Regions from separate parts of the Homo sapiens genome. Here regions 2, 3 and 4 are each linked to region 1. Evidence: fine-mapped expression QTL. A gene starts in region 1. Each other region holds a variant in brackets. All regions are shown on one strand. Distances are from middle to middle. Region 1 holds the start of MFF (mitochondrial fission factor). Region 2 overlaps COL4A3 (collagen type IV alpha 3 chain). Region 3 overlaps TM4SF20 (transmembrane 4 L six family member 20). Region 4 overlaps COL4A3 (collagen type IV alpha 3 chain).

Evidence for each region. PIP is the estimated chance that this variant, and not a neighbour inherited with it, causes the effect.
Region 2: its variant is the best candidate, but not a certain one, in a credible set for the expression of MFF in whole blood (INTERVAL, PIP 0.73).
Region 3: its variant is the best candidate, but not a certain one, in a credible set for the expression of MFF in monocytes after R848 (Quach 2016, PIP 0.79).
Region 4: its variant is the best candidate, but not a certain one, in a credible set for the expression of MFF in whole blood (INTERVAL, PIP 0.78).

Annotation. Positions count from the first base shown.
Region 1 is chr2:227,322,016-227,327,460 of GRCh38, reverse strand. It overlaps MFF (mitochondrial fission factor), which reads right to left and starts at 2,210. Exons shown (of 9, transcript NM_001277062.2): 1 at 2,034-2,210. It overlaps MFF-DT (MFF divergent transcript), which reads left to right and starts at 2,297. Exons shown (of 14, transcript NR_102371.1): 1 at 2,297-2,343. RefSeq lists a silencer at 1,869-2,158 and an enhancer at 2,339-2,388.
Region 2 is chr2:227,278,745-227,284,189 of GRCh38, reverse strand. COL4A3 (collagen type IV alpha 3 chain) reads right to left here. Exons shown (of 52, transcript NM_000091.5): 29 at 4,300-4,397; 30 at 3,600-3,750; 31 at 3,184-3,297; 32 at 1,658-1,825; 33 at 334-423. It overlaps MFF-DT (MFF divergent transcript), which reads left to right. Exons shown (of 14, transcript NR_102371.1): 3 at 2,401-2,486; 4 at 4,615-4,707. Among named protein-coding and RNA genes, the nearest start is that of MFF-DT, 44 kb to the left of the region's middle. The variant C/T (reference allele first, on the strand shown) is at 2,270.
Region 3 is chr2:227,363,802-227,369,246 of GRCh38, reverse strand. TM4SF20 (transmembrane 4 L six family member 20) reads left to right here. Exons shown (of 4, transcript NM_024795.4): 3 at 3,003-3,154; 4 at 5,235-5,445. Among named protein-coding and RNA genes, the nearest start is that of TM4SF20, 13 kb to the left of the region's middle. The variant G/T (reference allele first, on the strand shown) is at 2,668.
Region 4 is chr2:227,269,622-227,275,066 of GRCh38, reverse strand. COL4A3 (collagen type IV alpha 3 chain) reads right to left here. Exons shown (of 52, transcript NM_000091.5): 24 at 5,087-5,157; 25 at 4,115-4,297; 26 at 1,950-2,118. The region is part of intron 4 of MFF-DT (MFF divergent transcript); the gene reads left to right. Among named protein-coding and RNA genes, the nearest start is that of MFF-DT, 53 kb to the left of the region's middle. The variant A/T (reference allele first, on the strand shown) is at 2,426.

The DNA of each region.
Region 1 (5,445 bases):
GCTTAAAACCAATCAAAATCTGATTTTTTTTCTCCCTCGTTAGACTGTGGCATTTCTGATAATATCTTTTGGCAATAAATAAACGTCTCATTTGGTGTTGATATGTTAATTCCAGAAGTTTTGTACCTTAGAATCCAGTAGGCAACCAGTACGTGATTCTGTTACATAACAAACGAGGCAAAATCTCTCTTAGAATCACAGATGATTTCATATTTCTACTTTCTAAGCCCAGTGGTTCCCAAACACCAGTAACTAACTTGCCAACTTCATGGGTTTTTTTTTTCCCATATTCACAGAGTACATTAACTTTTTGCTACAGTTAATTTTTTTAACTCGACTTTTTAAAATCAAAAAAGTATTGTAAAAGAAAATTTTGTATCACTACCTTAAACCATGGCTGTACATATATAAATACAGATTGCAAAAACATCCTATTACAAAAAAATCCTCATCCACGTACCGCCTAGAGTCAAGTCACATGCCACTAGCGGAAAGTGTACCAATTTTGGGACACAATGATTCCAGCCCAACTTTCTCATTTTCTGTATTAGAACACTGGAACCCAGAAAGCCTCGGAAGTCACCGAAACAACTTGAGTCAAACTGACTGTGGTTGCAAATGTTTATGTACTTTTCAAAAACAAACATACAAACAAACAAAAACAAACCAAAAAAAACCCTCCAGTTGTTTATTACCTACTGCGTGGACCTAGTTCACACAGATGGGCCACTCTGCACACCCTGTTTCAGTTCTTTTTCAAAGAAACTATATTTAAAAAGTCACTGCAAACTTTTAAAACTATATATTAATGAACTTTAAAATAAGGTTATGAACCCACAGAAAAGTTTCAATACCAGAAGAGAGGAGAGCGAAGACTAAACTTTGCAATTCTGAAAGGAGGCAGCTCTATCAGACAGGAAGGGAGAGAACACAATTTCCTTTTGGAAAAAATGGCAAAACCAATATACAAGCCTTTGAAACCAAAAGATAGAAGGTCCCCCAAGCAATTTAATTGCATGGGAAAAGACTACTAAGTATAACTAAATCGTCCTAATTTTCCTAAGGGTTTTTCTTTTGGGCTCTCATTAGCCAACGGAATTGAGGCAGAAAAAATGTTTTTCACGCAGGGAGACAAAACATTTGTGATCATCTTAAGTCTCTCGGTGGATGAGAGGCCTGAATACAAATGGTTCTATATTTGGGCAGAAGGGCCAGAAACCTTTTTTTTTTTTTTCCCCTTTAATGTTCTCCAATGAAAACATGTCACTTTTGAAAGGGTGCTCTTCCCTCGAGAATGCCCTTTGCTTCTAACTTTGTGGGAGGTAGACAGGGGTGTTCTTTTACGATAGTAATAGTAGCACACGTCCTGCAGAGGAAGGTCAGAAGCTCGGCGGAACAGGAACCGCAGCTTTCCTCCGGCTTCCCAGCTCCTGGAAGGAAACCCGAGAGCAACTGCCTGCAGCCACATCTGCGAGCAGGGATGCTCACAGACGGACAGGGTGGCCCGCAGCCACCCGCGATGCCACAACCTGGGCTTCCAACAAGGCCCTTCTTTTCCAAAATGTACTTGCCACAAAACAACACAAAAACCTCCTTTTAAACAAGGCAGGTTTAAGGTCAGCCTGTAAGGTGTCAGGGCCTTGGCAGGGAAGGATGAGTGAAGACCTGCAAAGCCCGGCGTTCACGCTCACGGGACTCCCGCTGCTTCCCAAACCCCTATTTTCCAGTCGGAAAAGTCCGGGTTAATACACAAAAGGAGACGCCGAACCACACAAGGTGAAGAGGTTCGCCCAAAAACACCTGCAGAAGACGCTCCTCTCCCTCGCTCTCCTCGGGGACTCAAGGTCCCGGGGAGGAGGAAAGACCAGGGTTGAAGGCAAGAGGCCCGGGGACGGGACTCGGGTCAGGGAGACACTACCGGGGGGGCCGGGGCCACCGCGGGTCCCTGTTGGCCGGAGGGTCTCGGCGGCGGCGATAGGCCTGGCAGCCAGCTCGGGCGGCAGGTCGCGGGTCGGGAAGACGTCAACACTCACCCCTGGGCCCACAGGAGGGTCCCGGCGAGGACCCCCGCCCTCTGGCTCCCGGGGCGCTCGAGTGGGCGCTCTCAGAGGTGGTTGGCTGAGAGCACGGAGGCGCCCAGGGACAGCACCGGCGGAGCGGCCCGCAGAGGGCCAGGGCAGAAGCGCGAAAGGCGCGGGCTGGCCCCTTCTGGGAGCCGTAGCGGAAGAGTGTTCGTGGTCATGTGACGCGGAAAAGGGCGGACGCGTGGCCCACGCACTGGAACGGCTCCACGGTAAGCGATGCGCAGACATCTTTGTTGTGGGCGAAACGAGGTGACCGCAGGTGACTCCTCTTGCGGTTAAGTTTAATTCACACTTCGGCTTTATTAGATTTTGTAATCTTTAAGAACTTGGTGTTTGCAAGGTAAACCTTTGGTAGCCAATTAAAACAACTTTTTCAGGACCATCTGGCATGAAAATTTCTATGCTGTGAGGCTTAGGAATTCTCATATGTAAATCAGCTCCGCCAGTGATTCCATGAGTTCCAATTTGATACTTCTTAAGCCCTCGGTTGATCAGACCTTGTCTTCCATGAGAATTCCGGGAGAGGGGAAGTTAAGTTTCACAGTAGTTGGCGGCATCGTTTAGCTTTGGGAGAGCACTCTCTGCTTCTGAACACCCAACCACAGACTCTTCCCCCCAGGAAGCCCTTGCTTAGAGCGGGGGAAAAATGGTACAGTGCTTGTCAGTATGGGAATGTACTGAGGCCAAATAATGTGATATTTTATATGCCTTGGTTTTCACAAACACCTAAAGGTGTACACATGACTTATGTACTCCCCTACGATCTAATTGATATTCTAGAGATGTTACCATTCTTCAAAATGATTTGGGAAGCCCTCTGAATTGCGTTCTTGGGCTTCTTAACACTGGTGTAGGGAAAGTGAAAATATTTCCTCTCCCCTCTTGGGGTCTTGGCTGGGCCTAAGAATTAAACTGATGAGGAAAAGAGTCAAACTCTAAAATATTTGAAGAGATTTATTCTGAGCCAAATGTGAGTGACCATGGCCCGTGACAGAGCCCTCAGGAGGTCCTGAGAACATGTGTCCAAGGTGGTTGGGGCGCAGCTTGGTTTTATGTATTTTAGGGAGGCATGAGACATCAATCAAATAAATTTAAGAACTACATTGGTTTGGTTCAGAAAGGTGGGACAACTCAAAGCAGGGGCTTCCAAGGCTGTAGGTAAATTTAAACATTTTCTGGTTGACAGTTGAAGACCTGGGACCCATAGAAAGGAAATGTTGAGGTTAAAATAAAAGATTGTGGAGACCAAGGTTCTTTTGAAGTCTTATAGTGGCTGCCCTTAGAGACAATGGATGACAAATGTTTCCTATTCAGATCTTTAAAAGGTGCTAGATTCTTACGTAATCTCTTTAGGATTGGGAGGACCTGGAAGAAAATGATCTAGCTATGTTAATAGAAATTCTATGTAGATGCAGATTTTCCCCCAACAAAGGACAGCTTTGCAGAGCCGTTTCAAGATATGTCAAAAACTAAAAAAAATGTTTTGCGGTAAAATATTTTGATTTTGTTTCTTGTCTCGTTATGCCAGTGTCAGATTGGAAAGTAAGTCACAATATATAGGGTTAAATAAAACCCATCTGATGAGAATTTATGGATTGTAGGGCATGAATCCCTAGGCCCCTTAGATAGGAATTTGAGCAAGATTAAAAAAAAAATCAGAGCTTAGTCTCCACTGACGTAAAATAGAGACATAAAACATAACAGGAGGAAAGCATACAAATTTTATTTAGTAATTTTTACATTTACATTGGAGCCTTCCCTAGAAAAATGGAGACCCAAATTAACAGTTGGACCCTAAGTGCTTTTGAGTCTCCATTTTTCTAGGGAAGGCTAAAAAGAGTAGTAAATTGTGAAAATGTGAGAAAACAAACAGATTTGGGTTAGTGCAGTTAATGCAGAAGTGACTAAGAAGATAAAGGTTGTTGTAACAAAGTGGAAATGAAAATCGGTAAGTTTGTGCAGATACAGCTCAGCTTTGACTCCATGTCTCTGGTGTTGAGAACATCTCCCTTCCTCCTTATACAGGGAGGGCACCTTTCATACGGAAGTTTTATCTCCTGCTTTCAGGAAGGAAAAAGGAAAGCCACAGTGCTCTTTTTGCATTTTTTTTTTAAGTGCCTTTGACTCGAAAATAATCTTTATGCCAAAGTGCCATATTTTGGGTTGGCATATCCTACTATTGACAGAGCAGAAGCACTGCCATTTTAAAGTGCCCCTTGATCAAAAACCACCTAAATCCAACCCAGAGGGCATCAGCCTAATGGCTGTCAGCATGACCACAAACCACAAATGACACCTCCGACCAGAAACATTCTAACTCTAAGATAAACCCCTCTCCCACCAGACACATGCCAGCCCCAAGATAACCTTCCCTCTGACCGAGCGATGTCAGCCCCAAGATAACCTTCCCTCTGACCGGAGCGATGTCAGCCCCAAGATAACCCCTCCCCTCCAACCAGAGACATTCCAACCCTGTAATAAACTTCTCCTCCAAGCAGAAATATTCCAAGCCTGTGATAAGCTCTCTCACCCTAAACCCTTAAATACTCTTAGTCTGTAAGAGAGAGTGCTCCTGACCAAAATTGGCCAGAAGCCCCTCTCAGGTTTATTCTCTAAAATAAACCTATCCTTGATTGTTGAGCCACTTTTTGTGTTTCTCTCTTCTTTCTTTAACTCTTAACAACTACCCTACAGAGACAAATAAGCCTTTAAGAATAGATTGATTTTTAGGAATAATAAGTCATTCCAAGTCAATCTTTTGTGGGAAGATAGAGATCAAGTTGGGAGATCATGCATTAGGTTGGTTCTGAGGACTAAGCTCTGATTTTTTTATCTTGCTCAAATTCCTATCTAAGGGGTTTGGGGAGTCATGTTCTCCAAACCATAAATGCACATCAGATGGGTTTTATTTAACCGTGTATATCATGACTTACTTTCCAATCTGACTCTGGCATAATAAGGAAGAAAATAAAAATATTTTACCCAAAAATATCTTTCCTTGCCCTACCTTGAAATTGTCCTGCAAAGTCTCTTATGGGAAAAATCCACATTCTGTAGAGAATCTGCTTTCCCCTTTGTTTTCCTTCCTTCTGTGTCCGGAATTGGTGGGTTCTTGGTCTCGCCGACTTCAAGAATGAAGCTGCGAATACTTGCGGTGAGTCTTACAGTTCTTAAAGATGGTGTGTCATGTGTCCGGAGTTTGTTTCTTCAGATGTTCAGATGTGTCCGGAGTTTCTTCCTTCTGGTGGGCTCATGGTCTTGCTGGCTTCAGGAGTGGAGCTGCAGACCTTTGCGGTGACTGTTACAGCTCTTAAAGGCAGCACATCTGGAGTTGTTCATTCCTCCTGTCCAGAGTTATTTG
Region 2 (5,445 bases), 43 kb after region 1:
ATCAGGTCCTTAATTCTTCAGGTAGTTCATAGGGATTAAAAAGTTGGCAGTGCTTACTATAAAACAGAACAAATCAAACAAAAAAGGCTAACAGTGCTGAGAACTTGATAAATAGTTTCCCCAGGCAGGCAGCCTCATAAGGGTAGTGGTGTAAGCCTACAGAAAACAGGATTCCATTCAAATGGAGAAAAGGAACATAGAAAACAGCAAAATCAAATACTGTTGCTCTCTCAGAACTATTTTTCCCTCCAATGAAACATAACTTTTTTTGCTGCAAAATAAATGAACATTGTTTATGCTTCCTGCTATTTAGAAAGACACTCTATCACTTACCCCTCTGCCCTGGTGTGCCTGGGTTCCCAGGGGGCCCTGGAGGGCCAATGGCTCCAGGAAAGCCCATCATCCCAATCACTCCATCTTCACCTATGGAAACAAATTAACACAAAGCAGCACGTGTTGTACAGAGTGAGAAAAGCAAAATATTCCATATACTAAAATAAATTATACTTAGAAGCAGAGATTGGGAGTTGAAAAAATGGCCTCTGTACATAGTACAATTACTGTATTAGTCTAGGAGATGGGTCGGTAAGTGGTCTTTTAAACTCACCTATGTGGAAGTGATTGGTAGCAAATCATATTCATGGATGAGGATAGCATATGTGGAAGTTTTGGAGCATTCCATCCTCCCAGCCCCTGACCAGTCACTTTCTATTCTATCCCTTCACTTTATTTTCTTCATAACACTTGTCTCAAATTGAACTTAGATTTTAAATATTTCTATTATTGATCCTCTACTATGAGAAGGGGAGACTTGTCCACTGACTGATGTGTCTCTAGGGCCTAGAAGAATGCTGGCATGTGATAGTAGCCCAATAACATGAATGAAAGGATAATGTGTCGATTAAGTTGTTTTAGGCTCTTTTCCAGAGGGGAGATCGGTGAGGTCCTTATGCCATGAGGGAACAGAATATTCTCCCCAAACATATAAACAATAAACATAGCCATGAAATTAAAACAATTATACAGAAATATGATGAACAACAACAACAAATCAGATAACTTATAAAAATGGACAAGTTTCTAGAGAAACAGAATACCAAAACTGACTCCAGAAGAAATAGAAAACCTGAATATACCTATAAGAAATGAAGAGATTGAATTAGTCATTTAGAGACTTCCCAAAAAGAAATGCCCAGACCCAGATAACTTCACTGGTGAATTCTACCAAATGTTTAAAGAGCGTCGATTCTTCACAAACTGTTCCAGAAAATACAAGAGGAGGAAACACTTCCCAGCTTGTTCCATCAGACCAGCATTACTCTGACACCAACACCAAAGACATCACAAGAACGCTACAGACCAATATCCCTTCTCAATATAAATGCAAAAATTCTCAACAAAATACTAGCAAGTATATTATAGTAGTCGTATATAAAAAGGATTACACAGCAAAAATAGCCACATTCTGGGTAATTGTTCATCCTGCCGCCACCGTTTCCCTGCACCATGGCCCCTGGTTTCTTACAAATAATTTAGAAGGAAAACCTTATATTAAGTAAAAGCATAGAGTAAAAAGCGTATGCCTATGTACAGTTGACAGAGCCACCTTAAGAAGAAGAAGAAATAAGAAGAAAAATAGAAACACACAAAAGGATACCTGGTGGCCCTAAAATTCCCGGATTTCCTGGATATCCTCTTTGACCCAGTGGTCCCATTTCACCTTGATGACCTGGAATTCCTGGTGATCCAGTTTCTCCAGGAAATCCTGATCTATCCAAGCCTGGAATTCCTGGGTCTCCCTTTGGCCCCGTTTTACCTCTTCTGCCTGTGTACGAATAAATGAATGAATTAATTAACCCACAAATGCTTTCCCCTACTAACTTCAGAAATATATATATATATATATATATATATTTTTAAGATGGAATCTCCCTCTGTCTTCTAGGCTGGATTGCAGTGGGGCGATTTCGGCTCACTGTACCCTCCGCCTCCCTGGTTCAAGTGATTCTCCTGCGTCAGCCTCCCAAATAGCTGGGACTACAGGCGTGCACCATAATGCATAGCTAAGTTTTGTATTTTTAATAGAGATGGGGTTTTGCCATGTTGGCCAGGCTGGTCTCAAACTCCTGACCTCAAATGATCCGCCCACCTCGGCCTCCCATAGTGCTGGGATTACAGGCATGAGCCACTGCACCCGGCCACTTTAGAAATATTTTATGGCTGTAAATATTTAGCTTTGTGATTTGGGGTAACTGCACACTTACGCATG[C/T]GTGCGCATGTGTGTGTGTATGTATTTAATGTCCCCTCTGTAAAATTTCTGAGCTCCCTTCTGGCTCTAACATTCTCTGCTCCAATGATTTATGCAGTAATACAAGTGTAGTCTTTATATCTATTTTCTAGTCCTGCAGACACATTCTGGGACTGCACCTTATGAGTGCTGCTCACTCTGTTTCCTGCAGAAGACATACAGAGCCGTTCGCATAGAGGTAAGCCACTGGATGCCTCTGGAAAAAATAATAATGCCACTGTAACAGTTAAGGTCTTGGTCAAAAATTTATTTGTGAACATATAAGCAGTATGATAGACCACAGACATTAACTGATTTCTAAATACATTTTTCCAGGAACAGTTCATCAGATCTGATGAGGAGAGGATCCAAAAACAAAGTTTTCCATCATCTGGAACATCTAGCCTGCATCATTTAGATTTATTTTCATGTTTTTTCTTTTATATTGTATGTAAAACAATCAACTACATATTTTAGTTTATAAGTTTTTAAACTGGTATCATTGCATACATTTACCCTATTTTAATAATAAGGATAAACTTACCACTTTAATATATTTATGAAAATATTAAAGGTAAAATGTTTTCTGAGAATTTAATATGTATATAAATATATGTAAACACACACCAATCTCTGTCTTCAGCATTCATATTTTTCTTGCATAAAAGACACAAAGCAACTCACTATATTAACTTCAAGTTTCTTCCTTTATAGGTGGTACACACTACTGTGTGCAACAAACCCATAACAGCAAGGTTTACACTTCTGAAGTATTTCTCATTGAACAGTGGTCAGGACTTGTGGCTGGACAGTTCCCATGTTAAGCAGCAAAGCACAGAGCAGGAGTCTCATGTCTCCTGCCCTTCTGGTGGCCAGTTTTGAGGCCCTCCTCCTACCTTGTTGCCCTTTCAATCCATTTAAGCCTGGAAGTCCTTGGGCTCCCCTGGGACCCTCTATGCACCTTCCTGGGGGTCCTTGTTCTCCAGGTGGTCCAGGCTGCCCTGGATCTCCTGCAAAAGAAAGCACAAGTATATACCCAGGTGCTAGAACTTAAGGTCTTGGTATTGCTGTACCAGTCATTCTTCTGTTAACTTTTTTTCCACCTAAATCAGATCTATATTTACTGCCATTAATATGCCTTTTCTAGAGGGCACTCATTAAAAAAGAAGGAAGGAAGAAGGAAAGAAGGAAGAAAGGTAGGGCAGGAACATTGGATGGGAGAATTCTTCATGCCTAGAACACCTTCACATTCAGTTTGCTGCATTTTAGCAGAGCTCACAGTGGAGAAAAGTAATGACACTTGCTATTGTACCTCGTGGTCCATCAAGCCCTTCATTTCCTGGAGTTCCAGGGAGACCTGGAAGTCCAGGGAGTCCAATTTCTCCATGTTCCCCAGAATTGCCTCTTTCTCCTGGAAAACCTGGTGTTCCTGGTCCTCCAGGCATGGCTACTGCTGGTTCTCCCTACAGCATAGAAATTGTGTTATTACTATATAGTGCTTCCAAATCTTCACTGATATTGACTCTCTGTTATGGAGGCTCTAAGTCCCTGTTGCACAGCCACTACCATGTCATCAACTTTCCTTTTTGAGCTCTAGTTGCTGACTTTTCTGTAAGATTATGTTTAATAATACTTCAGGATATGTAGCCTCCACTTTTTCAGAAGACTGTGGGATTGTCTATAAAGAGAAAAATCTAGATGTTTTTACTTTTGATAGTTTTTCTTATAGCTAACCACATTTCTTTCTAGAGTTGTCCCATTTTAAATACTCTGATTATTTATGAAACCATTAAAGATGATATCACGATGAAATCTGCATTCTGACACCTTATGTTTTCCTTTCTAAAATGGAAGATGATCCAGAGAAACATTTAAAAAATTTAATATCTTCATCATCTACAAATATATTGATCATTTCTACATCTAGAGTGCTCTGCCAGATAAGTGCATACAAACTGGCCAGTTAATGGTCACCCACCCTCTCTTCTGTGATAGCTTGAATTTTTGCATACCTTGGCTCCTGGGAGGCCTGGCTTTCCAGGTAACCCAGGCTCTCCCATTTTTCCAGGACAACCCAGTGATCCTTTTGTACCTGGAAAACCTTGGTCTCCTACAGAGAAAAAACAATAAACATTGTTGTAGGATTAGTCTTATTGAAATATTCTGAGCAGTAACTCTCTTATCTCTCAACCAGCTAGAGATGCTTTTATGAAAATTTAAATGATAATAAAACCAACTGATAAATTAGCAATTTTTTAAAAGTTCCAAATCAAATTACATTGGTTCCTATTTGAAAAAATAACTTTCTCTATTTTGTTGTTTAGTAGGGCCATGATTTTGATTCAGCAATTCTTCAAACCACTGATGCTGGTTGACCATTTGACTTTGTTTTTGAAGTATTTTTTACATACAGTGTACAGGTAAGTGGATTTTTATATATGGATATATTCATGTAAGCATGACCTAGATTAAGATACAAAGCTTTTGGCTGGGCATGATGGCTCACACCTATAATCCCAGCACTTTGGGAGGCCAAGGTGGGTGGATCACTTGAGACTGGGAGTTCGAGACCAGCCTGACCAACATGGAGATGGAGAAACCCCATCTCTACTAAAAATACAAAAACAACAACAACAAAAAAAACAACAACAAAAAAACTAGCCAGGCATGGTGGCACATGTCTGTAATCCCAGCTACTCGGGAGGCTGAGGCAGGAGAATCGCTTGAACCCAGGAGGCAGAGGTTGTGTTGAGCTGAGATAGTGCCAATTACACTCCAGCCTGGGCAACAAAAGCGAAACTTTGTCTCAAAAAAAAAAAAAAAGATATAGAACGTTTTCAGCACCCCAGGTAGCCTTTCTCAACAGGGGTTGCTTAAGAGAATTAAGTCTTAATGCCCTATAGCATCCATTGCATGCAAGGGATTAACTTCTTATGCATTTATAGTAGGTGACTTGAGAAAGGGGTCAACACACTTTCTGTGATCTCTGGTTCAGAAGAGGAAGCCACGGTGAAGCAAGGCTGCATTCAGGGAGTTCCTTCATACCCTAATTTGACCAATATTTAATTTGCAGTTAGTTCATGGGATTCATTAGATTCAATTGTGAAATTGTAAATCTCCACTTTCAAGGAGCTCTTGGGCTAGTTCTGGTTCCCACA
Region 3 (5,445 bases), 42 kb before region 1:
TTAAAAATTACCCTTTTTCTGACATTTGATATTTATCTAGGATTACAATAATTATGCTAATTAGTTCTAGTCTATTTTTGTCTGAATACATTTTAGGTATTCAATAAACACTAATTTTCAGTTTCCCTTCCCTGTCACTTTTCTTTGTAAACGATAATAATTTGGAATTTGACTTTGTATCTTTTCTATGTGGTGTTCACAACATTCTTGACATCCTGAGACATTTCTGAATTCCTGAAATCAAAAATATCAAAACACTTATATAGGCTTTTCCGATAGGTGTATCCTCTAAGAACTGGTTTTTATGTCGTATCTGGTGTCTTTGAGGCCTAGATAAGACCAAAACATGAGACAAGTGGCAAAGGCAACATCTTGGGAGGAAGGGAAAGGGTTGACCAAGGCTTGTCCCCTATTTTAACTGTTCTTTGCTTCTTCCCTTTTTCCAGTTCTTATTTTTGCTTCTGAATACAAAATGGTTTTGCTGAATCATTTAAGTGAATCCCCTTTAGGGGAAATACACATGCCTGGAATCACTTTCTAAAGCCAGGCCTTTTGTAGGGATGAGAACTCAAAGATAATATGGCTGGGTGCGGTGGCTCACGCCTGCAATCCCAGCACTTTGGGAGGCTGAGGTGGGCGGATCACTTGAGTTCAGGAGTTTGAAACCAGCCTGGCCAATATGGTGAAACCCTGTCTCTACTAAAAATACAAAAAATAAAAATAAAAAAATTAGCCAGGTGTAGTGGCGGGCATCTGTAATCCCAGCTACTTGGGAGGCTGAGGCAGGAGAATTTCTTGAACCCAGGAGGCAGAGGTTACAGTGAGCCCAGATAGCGCCACTGCACTCTATCCTGGGAAACAAAGAAAGGCTCCGTCTCAAAAACAAAAAATTATATATATATATATATATAAATAATAGATGGCGGCCAGGCGTGGTGGCTCACGCCTGTAATCCCAGCACTTTGGGAGGCTGAGGCGGGCGGATCACAAGGTCAGGAGATGGAGACCATCCTGGTTAACAGGGTGAAACCCCATCTCTACTAAAAATACAAAAAATTAGCCGGGCGTGGTGGCGGGTGCCTGTAGTCCCAGCTACTCAGGAGGCTGAGGCAGGAGAATGGCGTGAACCCGGGAGGCGGAGCTTGCAGTGAGCCGAGATCATGCCACTGCACTCCAGCCTGGGCGACACAGCGAGACTCCGTCTCCAAAAAAAAAAAAAAAAAAAAATAGATGGTTAAAAATAAACACCATGGCACTTCTTGATGAGTACATTTAAGTAACTGCACAAGTCACAGTAGCATGGAAGAATCAGGATTTGAAGTAGACTCCAAATCCATCATTCTGAACTTTTGGCTGGAAGAAGAATAGTGATTAAAGTGTTTCCCAGCTGTGAGAGCCTGACAAGTTTTGTCCATCTCCATGATACACAGTTTTCTCATCTATAAAATGGAAATAATAATAGTATCTACCTCTTGGGATTATGAAAAGAATTAAATGAGATGATATATGTAGAGCACAACATCCCTCAACACAACTCTATAGGTAGCCACCTTATTCTGCACTCATAAAAGGCAGGTCTCAAGAACACAACACACAGACCCTGTGGGAGCTGCATTATCCCAGCAAAGAAAAAGGAAAAGCATTCCCTCGCTTCATTTCTGCTGATTTTGAAATAATCATCAGTGACTAACAACTTCACTGAAACAATACAAAAGTTTCCTTCTTTTTTTTTTCTTTTAGAGATGGGCTCTTACTACGTTGCCCAGGCTAGTCTCGAACTCCTGGGCTCAAGCAATCTACCCTCCTTGGCCTCCCAAAGTGCTGGGACTACAGGCATGAGCCACTGTGCCTGGCCTAAGAGCTTATTTTTGGAAAAACAAACACGAACTTTCATTCAGTTTCCTATGCCAAATTCCATGCCTTCTTCTGCTCTCATGACTGACTCACGAAATAAAGATGTGTACAATCTTTCTAACACAGTGGCTCTCAACCGGCGGGTTATTTTACCCACCCACCTCCACCCCAAGAGGATATTTGGCAATGCCTGGAGACATTTTTGGTTGTCAGAACCGGGCTGGAGGTGGCAAGGCGTCGGGGGATGATATTGGCATCTAGTGGGTAGAGATGAGTGATGTTGCTAAATATCCTACACTGCACAGGAAAGGCCCCACAGCGAAGTGTGCAAATGTCATTGGTGCTGAGGTTGGGAAGTCCTGTTCTAACTCTATGCTGTTGACTGATCACTGTGGGATGCTGGCCACTGGCCACTTAAAGCATCAGGGCCAAATTCACTTAAAGCATCAGGGCCAAACGCTTGCGAGCCAAGAGACCAGACATGAAGATAAACGTAGTTAAGATCCAGTCAAGATTCTATGAAGTAGGAAGTACATAAAACAGGGAGGAACTAGATCTCAGTGGTCAGAAGAAACAGATGAGACTCAGGAATATGAAAGTTGAGATTTTCCAGAGACAGTGACAAGCCAAACCATCTTTTTTTTTTTTTTTTTTTTTTTTTTTTTTTTTTTTTTTTGACAGAGTCTTGCTCTGTCACCCAGCAGGAGTGCAATGGCACGATCTCGGATGACTGCCTCCCGGGTTCAAGCGATTCTCCTGCCTTAGCCTCCCAAGTAGCTGGGATCACAGGCATCCACCACCAAGCCTGGCTAA[G/T]TTTTTGTATTTTTAGTAGAGAGGGGGTTTTGCCATGTTGGCCAGGCTGGTCTTGAACTCCTGACCTCAGGTGATCCACCCACCTTGGCCTCCCACAGTGCTGAGATTACAGGTGTGAGCCACCATGCCCAGCCCCAACCATCTTTTATTGAGTGTAATCAAATAGCAGAGACTGCCCTCTGCCTTTTTGTATCATTCACACCTAATAAACTGTGATCTTAAGATCCAGGATTTTAGGGCGACTGGATTTAAAAAAGACTGTATACGCTCCTGAAGCTTGAAACAGATCAAGAACATGTCATAACATGTGCAAATGGCTCTATTTTATTTTTCAGATGTTTCTTTCATCACTTTTCAGTGTGATCACAGTCATTGGTGCTCTGTATTGCATGCTGATATCCATCCAGGCTCTCTTAAAAGGTCCTCTCATGTGTAATTCTCCAAGCAACAGTAATGCCAATTGTGAATTTTCATTGAAAAACATCAGGTAAGTAACTTGATTTTCACAGGCTTACTGTCTCACACAGTTGAACTAGTTTGATTAGATTAATGCAGTACTGGAACAATGCCATGTTTTTATTTGATGCAACTGCCGGGACAAACGGATTCTTAGGAATTTTAGTACATTAACGCCAGTTAGCACAACTCCACATCAAAATGGAGGAATCATTAGATTTACAATGCTCTAAAAGGACTTTTAGATATTGTCTAAAAGGACTAGTTGATCTCAAATGGCTTATGCTTGTCTTTCAAAAATCTACAGTTACATATGTGTATGTATATTAAAAAATTATGCAAATATACACCAGAAACTTAACTTTCATCCTTGGAGAATGGAAATAGGGGATTCCCTTTATGAGAGTGAAGAGAACATTTACTTTCTACACTTCTGAACTAATTAAATTTGTCAACCATGAGCAAATATTACATTTACAATTTAAAAAATTTAATAAAAACACAATAAATAAAATGCAGAGCCTTGCCTGTAGGCTTAAATGGAAGAGCAACCAATGGATTCATACAGATATGCTATAAATATACTGTATGCATGGGAATGAATCCAAATTTTAAGTCATGTAATAACAAGTAATACTGGAGAGTTACATGTACTTAATAAGTGGCTCATTTTAGTCTTTTAAGTACATCATTCTGTGACTGAATCTAGACACAATTTGTAAAAACTGGAAGAAAAAAACTATCTAATCCATTACCTCTCTGTATAGCCTGCTCAGTTTAGCAAATAACCAGAATTTACTTTTGTAGTTACATACAAAAAATTTTTTCTCCTTTTCCCTTACCTTGCTACATTAAAAAAGAAAGTCCCTCAAATTTTGTGTAGCATATTTGTTTTGAACCAAAACCCAAGGAAGGCCAGGCACAGCGGCTCACGCCTGTAATCCCAGCACTTTGGGAGACCAAGGCAGGTGGATCGCTTGAGGTCAGGAGTTTGAGATCAGCCTGGTCAACATGGTGAAACTGCATCACTACTGAAAATACAAAAATGAGCCAGGCGTGGTGGCACGCGCCTCTAGTCCCAGCTACTCAGGAGGCTGAGGCGGGAGAATTGCTGGAACCCAGGAGGCGGAGGTTGCAGTGAGCCAAGATCAAGCCACTGCACTCCAGTCTGGGTGACAGAGTGAGACTGTGTCTCAAAAACAAAGCCAAGGAAAGTCTCCTTGCTAATAGACTTGAAGTAAAGGGTTAAAGATTTCTACCACAGATGCTATGCACATTAAATCCCCAGGGAATGACAACAGCCCACAATGTACCAGGCACCAGGCTACGCTCTGCAGACAACAGCGCTCAGATATTCTCAGCCTAGTTGCGGAGATGGGCTAGGCTAGCAAAGTTACAAGAGAGTGATCCTTGGCTTGCTACACATTTCACAAAACACTCATATTCCATGTGCTGAAAATACTGTTGTTTTCCCAGGTTGAATGTCAGTTGCTGATATCCAGCAATGCAAACTCCCTAAGAACATTCCATTTTACTCTACAGTAAACAAACAAAAAATCATCTTGAGATAGATGTATTAGGGCTAAAAGTTTCTCATTTTCCACAGCCCCGTTAAGAACAGGCACATCACTTTAATCAGACATATTTAATCAGTAAAAACTGTACATCTGGTTGAAGAACGGACGCCACGCTGTAGTTCTGCACTAAGAACTGAGCTCATTTAATGGGGGTGGCGGGGGGTAGGGGAGGCTCCTTAGTTTTTATATCTAGCAAGTAGAAGAGTATCTGAATAAATAAAATAAATAGGTTGAACCACGAAAAACTGTTGACATTCAACTATTTCTGACATCCCAAAACAGCAGTTTCATACCGTTCAACCTAAGAGAAGATGTACCATAGAGATGCTTGTTAAATGATGGGCTATATAAGTAATAAAAGTTTTGTAACTAGTAGAGTATATGGACACATGCTCAGAAACCCTGATCTCTGTCATTTCTGGGCACGATATTTCAAAAGTACATTCGTTTCACTCATTCTTTTATGTGCACAATGCTACTTTCCTTTGGTCAGGGATATTTCTGAATATCTGATTTTTATCTTTTGTTTTTCAGTGACATTCATCCAGAATCCTTCAACTTGCAGTGGTTTTTCAATGACTCTTGTGCACCTCCTACTGGTTTCAATAAACCCACCAGTAACGACACCATGGCGAGTGGCTGGAGAGCATCTAGTTTCCACTTCGATTCTGAAGAAAACAAACATAGGCTTATCCACTTCTCAGTATTTTTAGGTCTATTGCTTGTTGGAATTCTGGAGGTCCTG
Region 4 (5,445 bases), 52 kb after region 1:
AATTCTGCCATTGTAGCATAAAAGCAGCCAGAGACAGTACATACAGGAGTGCAGCTGTGTTCCAAGAAACTTTATTTATGGATACTCTAATTTGAATTTCATGTAATTTTCATGCATCACAAAATATCATTAAACATTTTTTTCAATCATTTGAAAATGTGAAAACCATTCTTAGCTTGAGGATCATACAAAATCAGGCAGTGGGCTGGTCTTGGACTGTGGTCCACCACCGTTTGCTAGTACCTGGATTAGAACAGCAGCCTCCTTCGGCCAGGCATGGTGGCTCATGCCTGTAATCCTAGCACTTTGGGAGGCCGAGGCAGGTGGATCACCTGAGGTCAGGAGTTCAAGACCAGCCTGGCCAACATGGTGAAACCCCATCTCTACTAAAAATATAAAAATTCGCCTGGCATGGTGGCAGGTGCCTGCAATCCCAGCTACTTGGGAGGATGAGACAGGAGAGTAACTTGAATTTGGGAGGCGGAGGTTGCAGTGAGCCAAGATTGCGCCATTGCTCTCCAGCCTGGGCGACAGAGCAAGATTCCATCTCAGACAAAAAAAAAAAAAGCAGCTCCAAAGTAAGGTGCAGATAAACATAAATATTTATTTGTTTATTTAATATATAGAGAAAGTCATAAAATAAGATTTACATACATGTGTGGACAGAAATGATGCATACATTTATAACATATAATGTAAGGTTGTGCACTCAAAAAGTTTTACTGATGAGGGAAGACACTACAAAATGATTTAGAGGTTTACTGGGTCTTACCCTTTAAAGTGATTTTTAAAATTTATTTATTTATTTATTTATTTATTTATTTATTTTTGAGACAGTATCTCAATCTGTTGCCCAGGCTGGAGTGCAGTAGCACGATCTTGGCTCACTGCAACCTCCACCTTCCAGGTTCAAGCGATTCTCCTACCTCAGCCTTCCAAGTAGCTGGGACTGTGGGTATGTGCCACCATGCTCAGCTAATTTTTGTATTTTTAGTAGAGATGGGGGTTCGCTATGTTGACCCGGCTGGTCTTGAACTCCTGACCTCAAGTGATCTGCCCACCTTGGCCTCCCAAAGTGCTGAGATTACAGGTGTGAGTCACTGTGCCCAGCCTAAGGTGATTTTAGAAGTAAAACATGACCATGTTGGCATTATTTGCTCAAAACTATCAGTAGCATGCTATTCTGACCTTCAGCCACACTCCTGAATCCAGAACTACGGCCAGTATATGTATATCCCAAAAGTTACCTGGACTTTTAAACTATTATCAGACCATTTTCCTTCATTTGTCTTAGATATTTTAAAGTTTTATTTGTAACCTGCCTATGGAGTTATGGATCAAAATCAACAAATTTGTGGCTGCGCACAGTGGCTCACGCCTGTAATCCTAGCACTTTGGGAGGCTGAAGCAAGGATTGTTTGGGGTTGGGAGTAGGAGACCAGCCTGGACAACACAGCAACATCCTGTCTCTACAAAAAATAAAAATAAAATATATATTAGCTGGTCGTGGTGACACGTGCCTGTAGCCCCAGCTACTCAGGAGACCAGGCAGGAGGATCTATTAAGCCCAGAAGTTTGAGGATGCAGTAAACTATAATTATGCCACTGCACTCCAGCCTGGGCAACACAGTGAGACCCTGTCTCTAGAAAACCACAAAAAACAAATTTGCAATAACGCTTAGGATCTATTCATTTCATATATATATATGTATGTATGTAATAGATATAGAATATTCTAGGAAATTTCAGTTGAATTGCCCAGTAATGGAGAAAAAATGAGTTTTCTCTAACATACCCTACATATTCTTTCCTGGTATCTGTGAGTTGACATATTCTATTCGTTAGAAGCAAGTTTCTATATTTTCCTTAGTCTTGGAGAAGCTTCGTTAGCTCTAGAAACCATCAACCCACTCCATCGGAAAACAGGACTGGAAAGAAAACTAACCAACCGGCTTCTCCGGGTGGTCCGGGGGCTCCAGGAACTCCTTGCGTGCCCTGGAGACCAGGTTCTCCTTGGGGTCCGTAGCCAGGTGGTCCAGCTGGTCCTGCAGGTCCTGGGGACCCAGGGGAGCCAGGATCCCCTGGAGGACCTTGGTCCCCTTTCTCACCACTCAGAGCCTGTGACAACAGGAATGTGTTTGAATCGTGCTTCATTCCAGTATATTCTTACAACAGGTTAATCATCCTCCAAATATGAATACCAGTTAGGCTGTCATTGAGATCTTGAATTAAAAGCATTTGGCATTTGATGAGAATTATTACTAAAGTAAGAGCACTGCAGGTTTCTTCCGTTTTGTGTCCTTTGGAGTTTAGCAACATTTTTTGAACTTGGAACTGTCTTGAGTCCCACTTGAGATATCTTACAATGATGGGTCTCCCATATGGTAATAGCCACTAAAACTATGTTCAAATTGACCAATAGTTC[A/T]AATGACTTTAGTGGTGATATTCATGATAATGTTACATTTCTGAAATAAAATGAGCACAGCAAACCTTTATTTCTGGTTTCACCAGGTATTTTCATGACAAAGGGGATTTCCCACTTCCATTTTCTCTCATAAACTGTCTAGTTTTTAAATCTTCATATGCTATAACCTTGAAAATGATTTGTAGATTTAAAAGAAATTGAATTTGACAAAATAATTTAAGCCCTCTTCCTTCCCAACATGGCCCTCTGAAATAAATTTGACTCAATTTTTCATTGTTCAATATCATCAGATGGCTAAGTGGTCTGTCTCCTTTTTTAATGACAGGGTGTAAGACTCAACAAATCACCACCTTGATTTTTCTCTCATTTACTTTATGGAGCATCTTTACCAGAACTTATAAAGAAAAATCAGTGAGATGCAAGTAGGGACATCATACAAATTCTCTTAATATTAGACCATCAGAATTCTGGCACTGTCACTTTATAAGCATAACTACCACAAAGTGAACAACCTGGGACTTGGCCAAGGCAGGGTCTGAGAACTGCTGGCACCATAGATGCTGCCAGCCAAAAAGGGTTTTGTAGTCAGAAGCATTTAGGAAAGACCAGATAGCTTATCTTCATGTGGAAGACTCACAGTTCATATTCTGATATTAAAGGGTCTGTAAATGAATCTTTAAATTTGTTTACCAAGTTTCTCCAAACCTCTTTGAGGTAAGATCTGTTTTATTGGCTAACACAGATTAGCCCTGGGAGAAACTGGTATTTCATAGAATAGTTTGGGCAGCATCCCTTGCAAACCTCTTGTAAATACATTATGATGACAGGTGCTCACCCTCTCACTCTGTGACATTTTAAAATAAATCTTAGGTCTGGGTGCAGTAGCTCACACCTGTAATCCCAGCACTTTGGGAGGCTAAGGTGGGTGGATCACCTGAGGTCAGGAGTTCGAGACCAGCCTGGCCAACATGGTGAAACCCCGTCTCTACTGAAAATACAAAATTAGCTGGGTGTGGTGGCACATGCCTGTAATCCCAGCTACTCAGGAGGCTGAGGTGGGAGAATCACTTGAACCCAGGAGATGGAGGTTGCAGTGAGCTGAGATTGCACCATTGCACTCCAGCCTGGGCAACAAGAGCAAAACTCCCTCTCAAAAAAAAAAAAAAAAAAAAAAAAAAAATCTTGGTAGGTATTACCTCAATTAAATATGTGAGAAACTCTCTCATGAAAAGGGATTAAATTTCCATAAAATTAAATGAATGACAAAACATTTAATCTCTTTATTTGACTACCATACCCCTAAATATGCTGTCTTCTTATGCATTTATTTTTATTTAAAAATATGGACATCGCCCCAAAATATTTACTAAACTTTCTACTATACATCATTTTCTGAACTTTTCCATAGACTCATTTGATACAAATATGGAACTGTAATTTGTGTATGAGATGGGGTCATTATCAATGTAGAATTTTGATTGGTTGAAATCACTGAATGCTACCTATTTATTCTGTCAAAATACTATAACTATTTGCTTGGGTTATTCCTGCTAATTTGAAGATGTTTCATTCTGCAGTTAGAGTGATGAACTGTGCTGAGCGGCCAACCATTTTTGGAAAAGAAATCACTTTATCTCTTAACTTCAGAGTACTTCATTTATAGGGAGGGTAAAGTTGCTAAATACCAACCAGTTCGCCTTTAGGTCCTGGTAATCCTTTCACTCCCGGAGTTCCAGGAATTCCATCCAAGCCCTTTCTCCCAGGTTGGCCTCTGAGCCCCGGGTCACCTGGGACACCCACTTGCCCCTCAGGCTGAAGTGTTTCACCTTTTTCTCCTTTAAGTCCTGGGTCACCCTGGGCACCTGGGAAACCCTAGGGTAGTACACAAATGAATCTGTATTGTATTTTGTTAGAATTCTTCTTCTGTCAATCTTAAAAACAGTGTGGACAAGAACTTTTCAATTTTAACATGAATTTTTTCAACACACTCTTTGGTCCACAACTATTATTACAAGCATTTTGTTTGTTTTGCTTTGTTGTTAACTTCCAAAACTGAAAAATAATTCAGTTAGATAGTATAATTCAAAGCAATACAGACAATAATATAATTTAATACCATAGAACAATCACCATAATACAGGTTATGTTTGAATATTGGTAAATTTTAACAAGCCTCTTTGAATAGTTTGATCTAAGTATATTTATCTATAACTTTTTGATTCACTATGACAGTCAAGATTCTAATTTTTAACGGACTTATTGAGGTATAATTTACATACCATAAAATTTCTCCTTTATAAGAGTACAATTCAATGATTTTTAGTAAATTTATAGAATTATGCCACAATCACCACAATCACGTTCAAACATCTCCATCACTCTCCCAAATTCCCTCAAACCTATTTGCAATGAACCTCTGTTCCCACTCTCAGCCCTAGGCAACCACTAATCTGCTTTCTGTTTCTGATACCATTTCAAACTGTTTATAAATTCATTGACTCATTCACTTAATCAGTCACAGATTTATTCATTTAATCAACAGGTATCTATTAAGTGCCTACTGTTTGCAAGGCACCAAACTGGTAAGTGTGTTGCAACCATATTTCTAGAGTGTGCAATTTGTCAAATTGAAGCTAAAGATTTAAAAACATGAAATCTTACTGGAAATCCTGGAAGACCTGTATTTCCTGGGGACCCTGGGCTTCCTTTCAAGCCAGCTGCGCCTTGTCTTCCTGCAAATCAACGAATTATTAACTAACTCCTCATTGAACGCCAACTCTAAGTAGACAGGGTAATACAATGTATGAAGAAAATAGAGTGTTTCCTTGTGGGGAAAGAAAGACAACTTCTATCATAAAACATAAATGCAATAAGAGAATGGGAGTAAATAACAGAACAAGAGATCATGTAAAAAGTAACTCAGATCTTAGCTTCTTAAAATTTTATCTTCATAATTTTAAGAATATATCTTTATTTTTTCTGAGTATATATTACTTTTAAAAGTAATATATGCTCATTAT